Regions from separate parts of the Homo sapiens genome. Here regions 1 and 3 are each linked to region 2. The links come from fine-mapping of genetic effects on gene expression. A gene starts in region 2. Each other region holds a variant in brackets. All regions are shown on one strand. Distances are from middle to middle.

Region 1 (5,973 bases), 120 kb before region 2:
AAGACAGGGCACTGAGGAAATGATAAGAATACCAGTGTATTGGCAGGGCGAGGTGGCTCACGCCTGTAATCCCAACACTTTGGGAGGCCGAGGTGGGCGGATCACGAGGTCAGGAGATCGAGATCATCTGGCTAACGGTGAAACCCCATCTCTACTAAAAACACAAAAAATAGCTGGGCGTGGTGGCACGCACCTGTAGTCCCAGCTACTCTGGAGGCTGAGGTAGGACAACTGCTTGAATCCGGGAGGCAGACGTTGCAGTGAGCCGAGATCATGCCACTGCACTCCAGCCTGGGTGACAGAACAAGGCTCCATCTCAAAAAAAAAAAAAAAAAAAGGAAAAAAAAAACAGTGTATTGAGTTGCCTTTTTCATTTTTTTTTTTATTCCCATGCTTTCCCACGATTAGATTTTTCTTTTTCTTCTTCTTTAGACTCACCCAGATTTCCTGTGAGCCTGGCTCTGGAGCACACTGGTTACTGTTCACCTACATTCAGGACACTTCTGAAAAAAATATTGAACAAAGATTGCTTGCCAGTTCCCTCACTGGAGGTTGAATTCCAAAGGTTATTTTCTTTAAGCCTTAATCTCAATCTTTTGAAGTCAAATCCTTCTCAAGATGGGTCCTCACAAAGTCCTAAGAACTGAACAATGTGTCATTATGACACTTGCAGTAATTTGCAAATAGCATTAGTGAATTCAAGTATTTGTAAGCAACTTTGCATGGGTCAGCCATGCTGTAATCAAGAAAACTACAGTTCTAGGTTAATGTTGGAGCATTAGGTTGACCTAATGCAAACAACGAACAATACGAGTCAAACTTTCTCTTTTTTCCTGAGAAATAGTTAATGTCAAAGTACAGTGCTTTCATGTGACTACCACTAGTGTGGAAAGTGGGCCATCATTCATTTATCACCCCAAGGAGATGAGAGATTCTAGTGCTCAGAGCTGCTCACTGTAGGAAGCCTTGGAAGTGGCCGGTGCCTGTTCCACAGCAGGTGTCCAGTTAAGTGTTATCTCTCTTCTTCCTTCTCTTTTTTGTTTCTCCCTTCCTTCCCGTCCCTTAAAACATTGCCCCAGAGGAAAAGATTCCAAACTTACTGAAAGTTAGTGTAATGAGTTATTCCCCACAGCTATTCTGCTATTGTCCTTCTTGAAGTCTTCAGCCCTGTGATTAGATTACTGCCTAATTCATTTAATTAATTCCTATATGACAAGATGTGTTATCACAAATACACACACACACACACACACACACACACACACCCCTTTAAAAATTTTTTTTTAGGTTCAGGGGTACATGTGAATGTTTGTTACATAGGTAAACCTATGTACGGGGGGTTGTTGGACAGATTTTGTTACCCAGGTATTAAGCCCAGTACCCAATAGTTATCTTTTCTGCTCCTCTCCCTCCTCCCACCCTCCACTCTCTAGTAGACCCCAGTGTTGGTTGTTTCCTTCTTTGTGTTCATAAGTTCTTATCATTTAGCTCCAACTTACAAGTCAGAACATGCGGTATTTGGTTTTCTGTTCCTGCATTAGTTTGCTGAGAATAATGGCCTCCAGTTTCATCCATGTTCCAGCAAAAGACGTGATCTCATTCTTTTTTATGGTTGCATAGTATTCTATGGACATACATACTTTCTTTTTTTTGAGACAAGGTCTCGCTCTTTCACCCAGGCTAGAGCACAGTGGCACAATCTTGGCTCACTGCAACCTTCGCCTCCCAGGTTCAAGCAATTCTCAAGCCTCAGCCTCCTCCCAAATACCTGGCTAATTTTTGTATTTTTAGTAGAGACTAAAAATGTTTCACCATGTTGGCCAGGCTGGTCTGGAACTTCTGCCTCTGCCTCGCACAGTGCTGGGATTATAGGCGTGAGGCATCTTCACCTGGCCGACACAAACACATTTTTTTTTTTTTGAGATGGAGTCTTACTCTGTCACCCAGGCTGGAATGCAGTGTCTCCATCTCGGCTCACTGCAACCTCCACCTCCCAGGTTCAAGCAATCCTCCTGCCTCAGCCTCCCAAGTAGCTGGCATTACAGACGCCCGCCACCACACCCAGCTAATTTTTGTATTTTTAGTAGAGATAGGGTTTCACCATGTTGGCCAGGCTGGGTTCTAACTCCTGACTTCAAGTGTCTGCTCGCCTTGGCCTCCCAAAGTGATGGGATTATAGGCGTGAGCCACCACGCCCAGCCCTGACACACGTACATTTTTAACTTGAGGTTTTCAATGCCTCAATTTGAAACTGTGATGAGAGCTGAGAAATCTCTTCAACGTCCAGTGCTTGGTACTCTCTGAAATCAACCCTCAAGGTAAACTGAGTTTGAAATTTTTTATGGTCACTTTGTGGTATGAGTGACCCCTTAAAGCCTACCTCTGGTTAAATATCTGCCTCAGAGAAGAGTCAGAGCCTGATATTTCTGAGAGTTTTTTGAGGCTCAAAATTCCTCAAGGCCATCTTAGACTTTTGAGACTCCTCTGGTCCTAGAATTACTTCTACATGTCCCATTTTGGCAGATGTAAATCATCAGCAGATGATCTAAATGTTCTAATCTCCATTCTAAGCTACCATTTCCCGGCCATGAAGCCATCTATCATCCCTTAAAACATTTCCAGGAACGAGCTACACTCTATCTCTAAAGGAGGCCCGTTTTGCTTTCAGATAGTACTCATTGTTTGAAAGTCTTCATTAGTTGTCTCTATCCTCCCTTTGCCTTCTGGAGTAAAATAAAAAATGTTGGCCGGGCGCAGTGGCCCACACCTCTAATCCCAGCACTTTGGGAGGCCCAGGCGGGAGGATCACCTGAGGTC[T/C]GCAGTTCGAGACCTGCCTGACCAACATGGGGAAACCCTGTCTCTACTAAAAATACAAAATTAGCCAGGCGTGGTGGCGCATGCCTGTAATCCCAGCTACTCGGGAGGCTGAGGTAGAAGAATTGCTTGAACTTGGGAGGTGGAGGTTGCGATAAGCTGAGATCGCGCCATTGTATTCCAACCTGGACAACAAGAATGAAACTCCATCTTAAAAAAAAAAAAAAAAGTCCAGAGTTTCAATATGGCAGCCTTTCAAATACCTAGGTCAGCAGCTGTTTCCTACAGAGGCTTCTGATGGCTGAGTAGGTGGGTCTGCTGTGTCCACCATTCCAAGCTGAGGGATGCAACTTACTTCCTTATACCTAAGTGGCCATGTTCTGTGTGTTTCCACCATCCTGGTCCATTTATGGGCTCATGTGTGACCTATGAGGAAACCCAGCACAAGTGTTTGTCTTACTAAGGACAGTTCATCAATGAGATTCTTTCTCTCAGCACTTTTGTCTGGAAACATGGGAAAAGGTCAATTAGACAGTAACATTAACAAAGCAGAGACACAAAATGAAAAATAGCCAAGTCATGTTAATGTTAATGATGGAGCACTAGAATAGGAGTCCTGTGGCTGGAGGTACAGTATAATAACCAGCTTACCTATAATTTCAATAGGTTCTATCAATAATTTTGAATGATTTCCTGCACTAGATCTCAGCTCTAGGCTCAGTTAGACCCAGCTACAACATGACTCTTCCTTCCAACTAACTTGACTGTCAGCTCTTCCTGGGTTGCCACAATCGAGAGTCTTGCCTGTATTTTCACATATATCCTTCTAAAAATTCCTGAATTACCTAAAATAAACCAGATGAGTCCCTAATCCAGGAACCCACAAGAAACTAACTAATAGTTCTTACCTTCTCTAAGTGTTCTCTTCTCCAGGTAAAGATCTCCAAACTTTCAAACCACTTCTTCAACTTGTCTACCTCCTACTCTCTCCCACCGCCCCCTCTAAGTTTCTGACTCCTACCTCCTCACCCCTAGTATTCGGCATCACCAATGAAGTAGATCAGTGGCAACCCATGGTGAGCACTGTGCTCTGCCTCCTCCAGCATATGTAGAACACCTTTATGATAACAAACATAAAATGTTTACCATCAAATGGATACCTTTCCATGTTTTGAATGATCAAACATTTTTCTACCTGATCTACCCCATGGAACGCAAGGATTGTCAGAACCAAACTTGTAAAAAATGAACTAACATGGTTAAAAAAAATGAACTAACATGGTTGATGGAAGGAAATTCTCTTGAAGGAAATATGAAAATATGATATAGTCCCCTATTGATCTCCTGACTAGCCTTCTTCATTGGATGAGATAATAACAAATATGGGCTCTCATTTCAAGTTACTCAGGTAGTAGTGGGAAAAGAAGTACAATAAAATCCTGGCCAGGTGTGGTGGCTCATGCCTGTAATCCCAGTACTTTGGGAGGCAGAGGTGGGTGGATCACCTGAGGCCAGGAGTTCAAGACCAGCCTGGCCAACGTGGTGAAAATCTGTCTCTACTAAAAATACAAAAATTAGCCGGGCATGGTGGCGTATGCCTGTAATCCTAAACTCCAGATAATACATTTAAATTTAATATCTGAAAAAAAGTAAATATTCTTTTGTGTAGCTAGTTTTTGGCTGCAAGTAATAAAAAAAAATAGTTGTTTAAGCCATAAGGATATTATTTAATGAGGTATCTAAAAATGAGTGCAGGGCCGGGGCGGTGGCTCACACCTGTAATCCTGCACTATGGGAGGTCGAGATGGGAGGATGGCTTGAGTCCAGGAGTTTGAGACCAGCATGGGCAGCATGGTGAGACCCTGTCTCTACAAAAATGTTTAAAATTAGCCAGGTGTGGTGTCACGCATCAGTAGTCCCAGATACTTGGGAGGCTGAGATGGGAGGAATCCTTGACTGAGCCCAAGAATTTGAGGGTGTAGTGAAATATGACTGTGCCACTGCACTCCCACCTGGGTGAAAGAGTGAGATCCTATCCCTTAAAAAAAAAAAAGTGCAAGTTTTGAGTGTTTTTTTTTTTTTTTTGGTTGTTGTTTTCTTCACTGGAGGTTAGAATTCTGCTTGGCATTTTTGTATAACTATGTTCAAGACTGAAAGTCCTGGAAATCCTGAGGCACCAGCAGACTTCCCCCCACATCTCATTAGAGAAGACAGAGACACATGGCCAAGCTGAGTTGCAAAGGAGGCAGGGAAGTGAGTGTCTGGCAAAGGGAAATAGGATTGTCATGACTAGGCAAAGTGTCTGTTTCAGTGTGTTTAGAATCTTTAAAAATAGAGTTTCATTTTATTACAAAAGTTAATACATACTTTTTAGAGAAAGTTTGGAAAATAGAAGGAAAACATTCCCTAATGCTGCTATTCAAAGACTTCTCGATACACCATTTGAATACTGTTCTAATCATATTGCACATAGAGTGTGATCTTTTCTTTCTTCTTTTCCACTTGATATATGATTAACTTAAGGCTCTATGGTTTTGGAAAGATGTTTTCCATTTTGAAATAAAACTTAAACTAAAGGAGGCAGCATAGAGCAGTGGCAAGAGGACTGGCTTGAGAATAAAGAGATGGTGCTTGTTGTCTGCGTTCTGGCACGAATCCATCACTGTATCTCCATTTCCTCAAAATAAATAAGTATGTTTTCTTAGGTCTCCTATTCCCGGGTCTGCAAGAGCATGAGAGCTGTGCCTTTGAGACACACAAGTCACACTGTTCAGATACTGGTTCAACAAAGCAGGTTAGGGCCATGAAGACAAGCAGAAAAGGTAAAACTGGAGGTTATCGCCATGGGAAACTACATGCCCGATACGTAATAATATAATATATAATATGTGATATATAAGATAATACCAGGTCTTCCAATTTTTCAACAGAAACCAGAAATCTAGGCCGGGCACAGTGGCTCACACCTGTAATCCCAGCACTTTGGGAGGTGGAGACGATAGGATCACCTGCGGTCAGGAGTTCAAGACCAGCCTGGCCAACATGCCGAAACCCCCGTCTCTACTAAAAAATACAAAAATTAGCCGGGCGTGATGGAGGGCTCCTGTGGTCCCAGCTACTCAAGAAGCTGAGGCAGGGAGAATTGCTTGAACCTGGGAG
Region 2 (5,973 bases):
CCAGGAAAGTGAGGACGTCCCCAGTGGCGAAAGTGGCCCCAATCAGACGGGCCCTAACCAGCCCCTCTCGCTTATTGGTCCTAATCAAGCGTACTCTATCAAGATTGCTGATGTAAGTTTCAAGTTGTGTCTTCAAATAAACTCTGTCACTCAAGTCATCCACCAAGATGATCTCTTTCAAAAGAACTGCAGGAGAAGTTTCTAAAACACTGTGAATGGTACGGAGCAAAGTCGACCAGGCTTCGTTATAGAAAGCAATGATAACAGAGGTGGTAGGAAGTGTCCTATAGTTGAACTTCTGGGACTTACACTCATACATTCTTTTATCCTCTATGTGTCGATGCAGGGAAATCCTGTCACTGAGGTAAATATTGATGGCGTATCTCTCAATGAGTTCTTCTTGCTGCTTCAGTTCATCCTCGTTGAGCTGGAGTTTGCTGGCTTTCCCCCACTCCCCAAGTGCACGGGAATCTGCAGGGGGCTTCTTATAAAGCGGTCGAGACAAATCCTCCGTATTTTTCTGGAGGTCTGAGAGCCTTCTTGACCCCAGCTCCCTGGCACGGCCGGCTCCTGCGGAGGCATGAAAAGTAGAGACCAAGAGCTCCACGAAGATATAGGCCACTGTTAAAAACGCCAGCAGCAGGCAGCTCTTGCCTGCCCAAGTCCACCTCACCGCCATCCGGATTCTCAGGGCTGAGGCGCAGACGCGGCCACCAAGCCACCACGCAGGGGAAGGGCGGCGGAACCCACAGCTCGAGCTCAGGTACTTCCCAGCAGGTTCTTCCTTTCATGCAGGCGCTAGGCTCCTTTCCAGCCACCCAGGCTTTCCAGGGGTCACCTGAGCCCTCTCGGTCCTCGGCCTCCGGCACAGCCCAACTCCTCTCTCCCTACTTCCTCCTGCTCGGCTCACAACTTTTCACAAACTCTCCAGCCAACACCCCACCCTCCCCGGGCCGAGGAGAAACCCCTCCCCTTCCCACTCACTCCTCCTGGTGGTTAGTTTGCGAAAGTCGTCCGCCAGGCCCAGACCGCTGGATAGGAGGCTCTTGGCCGGGCCGGGGGCTGGGGGCCGGGATGGCAGAGGGGGCCCTAGCTGCGCCCCGCCGCGCTGGGCCCTCGTCTCCGGGTGCTCTCAACCCTCATACAGGCCCTTAGCCGTTCTCCTAGGGACCCTGCCCGGACAGGAGGAAAGGTTTCCGGCCCATGGAGTTTAGTCTCATTACAAAAGCAAAACAAGAATAAGACTTACCAAGTTGCTTGCCGTTGGGGCTGAGGTCCAAGGAGGTGATCGCAGCTTTGTGGCCTTTGAAATAACGCTCCAGAACGGGGTCCTCCTGGAAAGGAAAGTTGTCAAGTTTTGAAAGCCGCCGCAGACCTCGAATTCTGGCGGCTGGGATCCACGCTGCCACTTCCCCGGAGTCCGGCTTGGGAATGGCCACCCAGGCGGCGGCTTGGCTGGGCGGCGGGGCCGGGCAGCAGCCCACCCACGGGCGCGGCGCCCAGTCCTGCTACAGGGAGACGCCGGCGCCAGCTCTCCCCGCAGAGCCCGCAAAACGCTCTGTTCGCGCTTCCCAGAGTCCAGCGCATCGCAGGAACCGCGGCCCCTTTGAAATGCACGTTCCCGGGCCCCGCCCGCTGGCCCAAGGCAGGCAGGTGCGAGGATGCGCCTCGGCTTTGGTACTTTTTTTTTTTTTAATACTTCCTAGGTGATTCTGACGCAGGCGCTCCACGGAAACCCTCCGAGAATTCTGGGGGCCGTGGGGCCGCCCAGCTCAGTCCGGAGCTCCGGAACTCGGGGAAGAGCGTCCGGGAGCCGGGTCTGGGTTCCGCACTCCGTCCGCCCCGATGGCAGAGAGTGAGATACGGACGCCCCGGGACGAGGGGCTCAGGACCCGGCTACGGACACCTGCCTCCATCTCCCTCCAGGTGCGGCTTCGGCCCGGACCTGGCCCCGCAGCCCGCGGGACAGGCTCCAGGGAGGGACCCCCCCCACCTCCAACCCGTCCTTACCGTGGCTGAGGCCATCGGGGGAGTGGTCGGCCCAAGGCTCCTGTGGGTGGGGGAACCCGGAGAGGGGAGGGGAGAGGATGGGGAAGGAGAGGGGACCGTGCGGCTCCCGGAACCGTCTGCCCAGAGCGGCAGCGCCTCCCGGTCACTACAACAACGGCGGCCCAGTCAAACCCCGCGCTCCAGGCATGGCCAGCCGAGCCCCGAGACACCGCCAGCCCTGTAAAGAGAGGACGGGAGGTATGCGCCGGGTCAGCTGTGGCCACACACCAAGCCATGTTAACTAACACTCGCGTTCTCCCTGGTTTGATGTCAGGAAGTGGGGTAGTAACCAGGACTGGAATAAGAGCGATGAATGGAAGGGCGTTGTGAGCCTGTGATCGATGCGATCAGAGTTCTATTACGTTTTAAAGAGACAGCACCCGTGACGTTTAAGGTGATCCCCTACCGCTTATTTTGTTGACGTAAAGCTTTGACATGAAGAGGGGCAGCTTGCTAGTTATTAATATACTAAAAGGAACTAAATCCCCTGAGGGCAGATTTGAATTTATTTAACCACTGTTTTCCACACAGTGCCCTGCAGGATATTGATATAGTTGCTGGATGTGCGTGATGAATGAATGAGTGAATGAATGAATAAATGTTGTGCATGCACTTAATAATTTTCTGCGATATGTTTCCATTCTCATCTGCTTATTTGCGTATACCTTAGAGCACTAAACTTACACAGCTGGATACTTAAAGTCTTTAGGAAGACTTGGAAACATGGTTTTTTTTGTTTGTTTTTTGTGAGACCACGTTTCTACAGCAGGCTTTGTTACACATAGTATCATTTGTGCTTCAGCCAAACAATGAAGTTGGTAGAATTACAAAATGTTTTCAATGTTTCCAAGTTATAAACTTGATTCCTAGATATTGGTCTTAGAGGTCACACAGAGACAGTTCTTCTAATTCCAAGTCCATATCCTTTTTTTTTTTTTAACCCTGCCTCAAAGCGTGATGTTCTGAGCTGAAAATTACATATAGTGTAAAGATCCTTAGCAACATCAAAGGGCATGATAGAACACAGCTGGTAAGACATGTGTTTTATGCAAATGAAAGGTATGCTACACACCTTAATTACAGATTCCCTAGTTGTCTAGTGATTGAGTTTAATTTTATTGAATATGGTACTTAACAACTAAACAGGTAGGCTTTAGATTACAGTATTAGTTAATTTAAGTATACACTTGTTAAATATCTGTTGTATGTTTGGCCTTGAGGGACACAATGATGACTAAGATATTTCCCCTACCTTCAAGAACTCAGCAATCTAGGGTTGGTGAGTCTCATGCTTTAGCATTTGTAATGTTGATTTGGGGGCTCCATTTCCAGAGATGCTGAATCAACATATACAAGGTGGGATCCAGGGCCCTTCTGATGTAACAAGCTCCATAGATGATTACTATGGGAGTCTCAGCTGTCTATGTTGAGAAACACTGCATTAGTCTAGGAGATGATATGTTAAGAGTGTTGATATCAGCAACTTGTCAGCAAACTGTTGCAGGACTCTTAGTTTTGCTACATATTACCAGTTTAGGCTTGATTTATTTTAAAAGCCTGCCATGTTTAAAACTAATGCTGGATACTGGTGGGAATGTAAAATGATGTAGCTCTGTGAAAAAGTTTGTCAGTTCCTAAAAAGTTAAACATACAATTACCTTATAATCCAGCAATTTCACTGCTAGGTATATCCCATAAGTATTGAAAGCAGAGACTCCAACAGATGCCAGTGTTCAAAGCAAGCATTATTTACAATAGCCAAAAAGTGGATACAATCCTAGTATCCAACAGATGAATGGATAAACAAAATGTATGTGATATATACATATAAGGAAATATTATCCTGCCATAAAAAGAAATGAAATTGTGATACAAGCTATAACATGGATGAACCTTGAAAACATTTTGCTAAGTGAATAAGCCAAACACAAATGAGCATATATTGTATGATTCCATTCATATGAGGTACCTAGAATAGGTGAATTCATAAGGACAGAAAGTAGAATAGAGGTTACTAGGGCTGGGGGTAAGGGAGACTGGGGAGTTACTGTTTAATGGGTGCAGAGTTTCTGTTTGGGATGATGAAGTTCTGGAAATAGATAGTGGTGATGTTTGCACAACATTGTGAATGTACTTAATGCCAGTGAATTGTACACCTAAAAAATGGGTAAAATGGTAAATTTCATTACAGGTATTTCACCCCAATAATAAAATAATAATGCCAGAAGCTGAAGAGTAATCAGGACCTCAGGATTACTCATAGGTATGTTACGTCTAATATTGGGCACAGGAGAAGCAGAAAAGGGAAGAAGTTGGAGATTTAGAAACTAGCTCACAAGAAGAAAAAATATAGATTTTTATTTAAGTGTTTTAGTAAAAGTTTAGCTTTTACTTTTTTTCTCAATTATCAAGAAACACATGTTTTAAATTTAAAAGATGGGAGGGAAACTACATATTAATCCTATTACCTAAAGTTGATCTTAAAAAATTTGTCACCTACTGATATGGTTTGGATTTGTGTCCCCACCCAACTGTCATGTAGAATTGTAATCCCCAGTGTTGGAGGAGGGGGCTGGTGGGAGGTGATTGGATCATGGGGGTGGATTTCTCCCTTGCTGTTCTGAGTGAGTTATCACGAGATCTGGTTGTTTAAAAGTGTGTAGCACTTCCCCCTTTGCTCTCTTCCTCCTGCTCCAGCCATGGAGCAGCCATGCTCTCTTCCCCTTTGCCTTCCACCATGTTTGTAAGTTTCCTGTGGCCTCCCCAGCCATACTTCCTGTACAGCCTGCAGAACCATGAGCCAATTAAACCCGCTTTTTTTGTAAATTACCCAGTCGCAGGTAGTTCTTCATAGCAATGTGAGAACGGACTAATATACCTACCTATGTTTTCACTACATGCCAGGACTTTTCTAAGTACCTTACAAATTTTGACATTTAGTGATCATAACGATCTTATTAGAGATGTGCTATTATTACCATTTCCGTTTTATAGATGAGTAAATTGATATGCAAAGACATTAAGTTACTTGCCCAAGGCACACTGCTAACTAGGAAGTGGCAGAGTTGAGATTTTTAGACACTCGCAGTCTGCCTCCAGAATCCACTCTCTCTTTTTTTTTTTTTTTTTTGAGACGGAGTCTCACTCTGTCGCCCAGACTGGAATGCAGTGGCGCGATCTCGGCTCACTGCAAGCTGCTCCGCCTCCCAGGTTCACGCCATTCCCCTGCCTCAGCCTCCCGAGCAGCTGGGACTACAGGCGCCCGCCACCAAGCCCGGCTAATTTTTTTTGTATTTTTTTTTTAATAGAGACTGGTTTTCACCGTGTTAGCCAGGATGGTCTCAATATCCTAACCTCGTGATCCGCCTGTCTCGGCCTCCCAAAGTGCTGGGATTACAGGTGTGAGCCACCTCACCTGGCCCAGAATCCACTCTCTTAATCACTGTCATGACTTTTGTGTGATTGCAAGTGTTATGTAAATGTATAAAACATTGCATTCTTGCCAAGGTTTATAATAATAAGTTTTACAAAATGAAAGTAATATCTCCTTTATTTTCATTCCACTGTCCTCATTTATTACTCTAAACTGCCCTTCCCATTGTTCTTTTCCATAGTATTTGATTTTGTTCTTTTCGGCTTTTCTTCACCTTTGCAAATAGCAAAAGCTCAGAGGTAGACAATTGGAAATGTGGTCAAAGTTGGGGAAGTTTTTTCTAACCTCAAGCCTAATTCCACTTGCTACAATGATTATTTAGACCTCTCTGGACTGCAACCTAATCATTTATGTGGGTGGGAGCCACAAGCAGGATCAGTATTTAAAAACCTACAAGGTTTTACTGGAGGCCGGGTACTAGCTAGGACAAACTGACCTCTAATTAGCCCTTCTTATACAGTTCCCCCTAAAACAGAAATTGAATGTACTTA
Region 3 (5,973 bases), 170 kb after region 2:
GATGTTATTCTTAATCAATGGCCAAAATGATTTAGTTGACTTAAAACTCAGGCTAAGACTCAAATTTTTCTATATTGAAGAAAGTGAACTATGCCTAGACGACAGCAGATCCTTGAATAATATTTCATTTAACATGGTTTCATTACGACATTGATGAGAAAAAACAAAATCAATTCCAGGCTGGGACGACTGTGTGGAATCTTCACTTTCTCCCTATATCTGCATGGGTTTTCTCCAGGTATTCTGGTTTTCTCCCACATACTAAAGATGTGCTTCAGGGAGAGGCTCTGGCCACTCATGACCCTGAACTGGAATCAGCAGATCAGAGAAATGAATTAATAATTACAAATTATTGTCAAATAAAAATTACTAAAGTATACAATAATCATACAAATGCTCTATAAGAAATGATGTGGTATGAGAGCAATCTGCAAGCTTGCTGTTTTTATGATTGTTTTTGAACTTCGTGTGGTAGGAGGTGCTCCTTACAATTTTCACTTAGCAAACATTTATTCTTTGATTTAACCTACTACCTACCATGACCACTGTCACTCACTGATTCACCAAAAATTGGGTTGTCTTATTAATCTTTCTTAAATGTATGTATGGAATTACTTATTTCAATGTTTAATATCAGATATTTGGTAATGTTTTTGTGACCAGAAATATGCCATAAGAACTTAACTCTTGTTTATATCGACTAGTCTATGGTAAAATTGGTTTCGTTACACATCATTTCACTTAATGTTGCAGTGTCCAAGAACCTATTGGCCACACTGAGGATGTACTGTATGCTTCTGTCAGTAAAGTATTTCTGAATGTATACTTAATTTTTCATTTTACTCCCTACAACTAGTATTAAGCCAATAATTTATTTTCTAACTGTTATTTCAGAATTAAGTAAATACTGAATATGAAGTGATGGCAACACAGACAAGGAAATGACTGTGCCTAGGGAAGCTGCAGCAATGCCTTATCAAAGAACTGACTTTTAAAGTGAGTCTTGAATGAAGAGTCCTATTTTGTAATATTTAGGCAAGGGGAGTATGATTTACAAAGGCATAAACAATGAAAAGGTTGGGCATGTCTTTAACACAGGAAGAACTCCTGCTATGATACGAAGTAACCATTGTGACAGGAGGAATGGAGCAGTATAGAAGGCTCAGAGTTTAACTGGACACATTCATTTATTAAGTACTAACTTAATGAATAATCTAAATGATAAGCACCTAACTTTCTGGACAGGACAGAAGAACTTCATGAAGGAGCTTCATAATGAGTCCTAAAAAAATGACTAGTTTGGATGAGGACATTCCAGATAGGAAGAGCAGCACACAGCCGTTGCTTTTTAACCAAATTGTCCATGCCTATTAAGTTTTGTGAATTCTTATTTTTTACTTTAAAAACCTTCCTTTTCCATCACTAAAATGTAAATTTTCAATTAGTTCCTATGATACTTGTGCTTGATTCTAAACAGTCTTTCTAGTTTCTGAAATTTGCTCTCTTTCATCTGCAGTGTGCTGGCAAACCAGTTATCAAAATGTATTTAAAATATGAATAAATACAGCAAGTAAACACCTAAAGTGGAGTAAGGTGCTGAGAGTCTTGATTCATGAACTTCTGGCGGCTTAGAGGGCTTTTCTGCCAATTTCCTGGTTCTCTACTTTGTTTTACATGGTTCAGGAAACTGGATAAATAATAGCCTTAGGCTGGGAGAAAAATTATCCTACACCTCTCTCCATTCTTCTTCTATTTCTGCTTTCTCTTTGATTCCTCCCCATTCCAGTAGCATTCCAGATAGCGATTAGTCCACTAAGTTACATTCCAGGACAAGAAGACTGGTTTCCACTGACCTCAAAATTAGAGGAATGTCATGGTACAATTAATTTGATACATTTCGTCCTTTTATACCCATAACTATTCTAAGTAATTATTACTTGAGTAGCCAAAAGAAACACTTGCACTGAATGTTCAAATACATATATATAGAGAAAGATGTGTATCTACTAACTAGATATAAAAAAGTTATATTCAACTACATAATCTGTCCTATTCTCTCTCCCTCTCATATCCCACTTACAGCTGTCACCTTAATTTTAAAAAATCCCCAATGCCACTATAATCTATGACTTTTAATGACAACCTCAAACTCCTTCTGTGCATGTGCAGATCTAGATTAAACTATAATCTCTCAACATCCCCCAAACCACTCAAAGTTTCCTCCTTTCAACTCCTTAGGGTATCTGCTTATGGGGGGGTTACCTGGTATCAAATACATTGAAGGGGCATGGCCAAAGAATCTGCTCAAAAGAGCTTTCCCTCCACTCGGAAATAAGGCCTTCAACCAATACAGTTCCCACTTGTGGAAACATTTAATTTAAATCTAGGGCCACAGGTATACTTCAGGAAGGGAGACAGGAGGAGCAAGTCCAACATTATGAAAAACTGATAGCCTGGCTTGCTACCTAGGCTGTGTGCAGAAGTACAAACAGAGCTCAGCACAACTTAGAAAACCCTCCAAATGTAATTGTGACAGAAGGCCAGAGATCACCATCAAGAATTCTAAGAACTGGCCAGGCGCAGTGGCTCACGCCTGTAATCCCAGCACTTTGTGAGGCCGAGGAAGGGGAATTGCTTGAGCCCAGGAGTTTGAGACCAGCCTGGGCAACATGGCGAAACCCTATCTCTACAAAAAGTACAAAAATTAGCCGAGCATGGTGGCACATGCCTATAGTCCCAGCTACCCGGGAGGCTAAGGTGGGAGGATCACCTAAGCCCAGAGAGATCGAGTCTGCAGTGAGCCATGATC[G/A]TGCCATTGCACTCCAGCCTGGGCGACAAGAGCAAGATGCTGTTTCAAAAAAAAAAAAAGAAAAGAATTATAAGAATAGGATACAATGGTAGCAAAACTACTGAAGTCTGAAGGTTTGACAGCAGATTCTAGAACGCTTTTCTTCTTTACTTGTATAAGAATAGCTGGAAACAATATACCCCTATTCATTATAGAAGAGATCACAGACCAGGAATGGGACATGTGCACACACTTACACTGGTTCTGGAAGCATACAGCACCTGATGAATCACTGCACAAAAAAGGAAACCAAGAAGGAACACCAGACACACTGAGCAAGGCTGACTTAAAGCTCTACATAACAGTCTCTCCTCTCAGCAGGTCACAGTTGTTACGGTCTACCCTAGCAATCATATAAATATTTTTTAAAAGAAAATATTTATCTCAAATCTGAAATTTTCTACTTGAAATGAGAATTAAAAAAAAGAAAAAAATTCATATATGATGTCACAGAAAGAGCCTGCCAAGACACCTTTAAATTTCCCTAGTTTTACCTCGTTTACAATACTGAAACTTAACTTTTTTGGACTAACTCTTTAGCTGTAGTTGTATTTAAGTTTAGATGTCAAACTTCTGAAGTTTTCTCCTCTATTAAAAAAAAAGATAGATACATTAATCTATTAAGCAACATTTTACAAAAACATCTACTCACTGGCATTTTTAAATAGTAATACCCATTTCCATTGGCTGCTTCTTAGTATTCTATTCTATTTAGTAAAGTCTATCCTGCTCTTTAGAAGCAGGGATAGTAAAATTCTTGTTTCACAAAAAATTAAATTTATATAACATAGTTATAAGAAAATATTTCCAATCTTTGTGTCATTTACCTGACATATCATTCAGCTCAAATTTAAAAGAAACAGTATCTGTGATAAATTCTCACCCCAAGCACACTACAGTTTCTATAAGATGCAGAAGTCCAGTGTCAGTGGATTCAAGCTCAAGACCAGACACAAGAGGCTCATTCAAGAATCATTAACAACCTCACAGGTATAAACAGGGCATTGTGCCAAGGGTGAGTGACAGAAAGATGCACAGTTCCTGCTCCCAAACTGAACATGTCACGGAAGTGTCAAACATGTGAACAACAAAATATGAATTCTTAAAAGTGCTATGGAAATTTGGAAAAGTAAAGCAGAGACCTGGAAATGAGTGGGACATACTATAGACACAGCAAGAAAAGACAGACTCCCCAAAATCTGACCAGCCTCAGAGAAAGGAGACTGGAAGAAAATTTTAGTCATAAGACCACAAACTACCAAAATCCTTTAAATACAGTAAATACAGAGAAACAATCATAAATGAAGACAAACATATGCAAATAAAGATGCTCACTGGAAGATTATTTAACAGAAAAGAATTAAAATCAAAACATCCAATAACAAGGGACTAGCCATAGGATACAACATTATTAAAATGTTGTTAATGAAAAAATTTAATGACATGAGAAAATAATACAAAGTTTCTAAAAAGCACATAATTATACCTACATTATCTGAAGGATGTTAATAGGTAAGTTTTTCAAAAGATAAAAACCATTAAAGTGTTAAAACTAGCTATTTCTCAGACGGAGGATTATGAGTGATTTGTTTCACTTTACATTGTCCTATTTTCCAAACATTATATAGTGTTACATTTCTAACTGGTAAAAAGGTTATGTAAGTCACTGTATTTTAGGGTATTCATAGCCCTTTAAAACTATTCATAGCCCTTTTCATCTCTTTCTATAGAGAATATCTCATCCATATATTACACAGAACCCACTCATTTAAATGGGTTAATATGTGTAAATTGCTTTGAACAGTACCAGCAGGTAGAAGGCAGCTACACAGGTGTTCATTTTATTCAATAATCATACATTCCCTTTAGTCAAAGTAACTAGTGTGTTTTGGAGCTAGTCTGTTTTTCATGGCATGTTAACAAAAGAACATTAGTTTTGTTTTTTTTTTCACCCTCTAAATTCTAACATCTCTTAAGAAATGACTGCTGTTTTCCCGAGATTCTACTTCCTTCAAAAAAAAAAAAAAAAAAAGCAAGAAGTAATTCAAATATCAAGTTCCTTAATAGGAAGACAGAAATTTAATGAGTGGAATGGAATTTGGCCTTATCCAGATGAAGAAACAGAAATCATACACCAGACTCTTATCAGGCAGTGGGCTATATGTAATTATTTGGAAAAAATGTCTTTATATGTCTTTATGAGCTTGGGGTATGGCGGGTCAGAATCTCAGGGGAAGACTCAAGAAACCAAATAAGGCAATCAATTGTTCTATATAATAAAGAAATGAGGAATCTGGATTTGCAAAGTAGAGGATGACTGGAGGGAGAAATTAAGGAAGGGGACTCTTGAGTTATCCATAGACTGTCTTCACTAAAGAAATGTTCCTTCATGTCCACATTGCTCACTTCTGCTTTTGTAAAAATGGATTATTTTACCCAAAGTAAAATTGAGTTGTGTATCTAAATTGCACAAGACTGTACAAAGACACAGGAGATGAATGACAGATGACATATCTGGGTTATCCACACATTTAAACTTATTTCATACATGTATTCATTTTCAGTTTTGACAAACTTATACATGCATAAAGTCTGTTTAGGAAAACAAATCCAAAAGGCTTTTTTTTTTTTTTTTTTTTAAATATTAGCAGTCCTCTTAGTTCCTCCCCACCCCCACCGTTTTTTCAAATATCAGCAGTCCTCTTAGTCCCCCATCCCATTTTCTACTCTGAAGCAACTAGGAAAAGTACCCTCAAATCCTTCATCTCCACAAATAATGCTTACAAAGCTACCGCTTGCTTTTTCAGTTACAGGCTTCATATATATCTTTCCCCCACCTGCCGAGATGGAGTCTCGCTCTGTTGTCCAGGCTGGAGTGCAGTGGCACGATCTCAGCTCACTACCTCCGCCTCCTGGGCTCAAACAATTCTCCTGCCTCAGCCTCTAGTAGTGGGGATTACAGGCCCATGCCACTACGCCCGGCTAATTTTTGTATTTTTAGTAAAGACGGGGTTTCACCATTTTGGCCAGGCTGGTCTCGAACTCCTGACCTCAAGTGATCCACTCATATCTTTTATCACCATTCTTCTTCCCATCCCCAGCACAAACACAAATGCTTCCTAAAG

What was found. PIP is the estimated chance that this variant, and not a neighbour inherited with it, causes the effect. A credible set is the group of variants that fine-mapping cannot tell apart.
Region 1: its variant is the best candidate, but not a certain one, in a credible set for the expression of POC1B in tibial nerve (GTEx, PIP 0.60).
Region 3: its variant is the best candidate, but not a certain one, in a credible set for the expression of POC1B in transverse colon (GTEx, PIP 0.66).

Annotation. Positions count from the first base shown.
Region 1 is chr12:89,401,106-89,407,078 of GRCh38, forward strand. All of the region lies in intron 9 of POC1B-DUSP6 (POC1B-DUSP6 readthrough), which reads right to left. All of the region lies in intron 1 of LOC124902981 (a long non-coding RNA gene), which reads left to right. It also overlaps a transcript of POC1B not described here. Among named protein-coding and RNA genes, the nearest start is that of DUSP6, 52 kb to the left of the region's middle. The variant T/C (reference allele first, on the strand shown) is at 2,818.
Region 2 is chr12:89,523,871-89,529,843 of GRCh38, forward strand. POC1B (POC1 centriolar protein B) reads right to left here and starts at 2,177. Exons shown (of 12, transcript NM_172240.3): 1 at 2,011-2,177; 2 at 1,250-1,334. The coding sequence starts at 2,025. It overlaps POC1B-DUSP6 (POC1B-DUSP6 readthrough), which reads right to left and starts at 2,177. Exons shown (of 11, transcript NR_189589.1): 1 at 2,011-2,177; 2 at 1,250-1,334. POC1B-GALNT4 (POC1B-GALNT4 readthrough) reads right to left here and starts at 2,392. Exons shown (of 3, transcript NM_001199782.1): 1 at 2,011-2,392; 2 at 1,250-1,334. The coding sequence starts at 2,285. GALNT4 (polypeptide N-acetylgalactosaminyltransferase 4) reads right to left here and starts at 926. Exons shown (of 1, transcript NM_003774.5): 1 at 1-926. The coding sequence starts at 679. It also overlaps POC1B-AS1. RefSeq lists an enhancer at 643-852 and silencers at 943-1,322, 1,873-2,132.
Region 3 is chr12:89,692,204-89,698,176 of GRCh38, forward strand. The region is part of intron 1 of ATP2B1 (ATPase plasma membrane Ca2+ transporting 1); the gene reads right to left. Among named protein-coding and RNA genes, the nearest start is that of ATP2B1, 14 kb to the right of the region's middle. The variant G/A (reference allele first, on the strand shown) is at 2,810.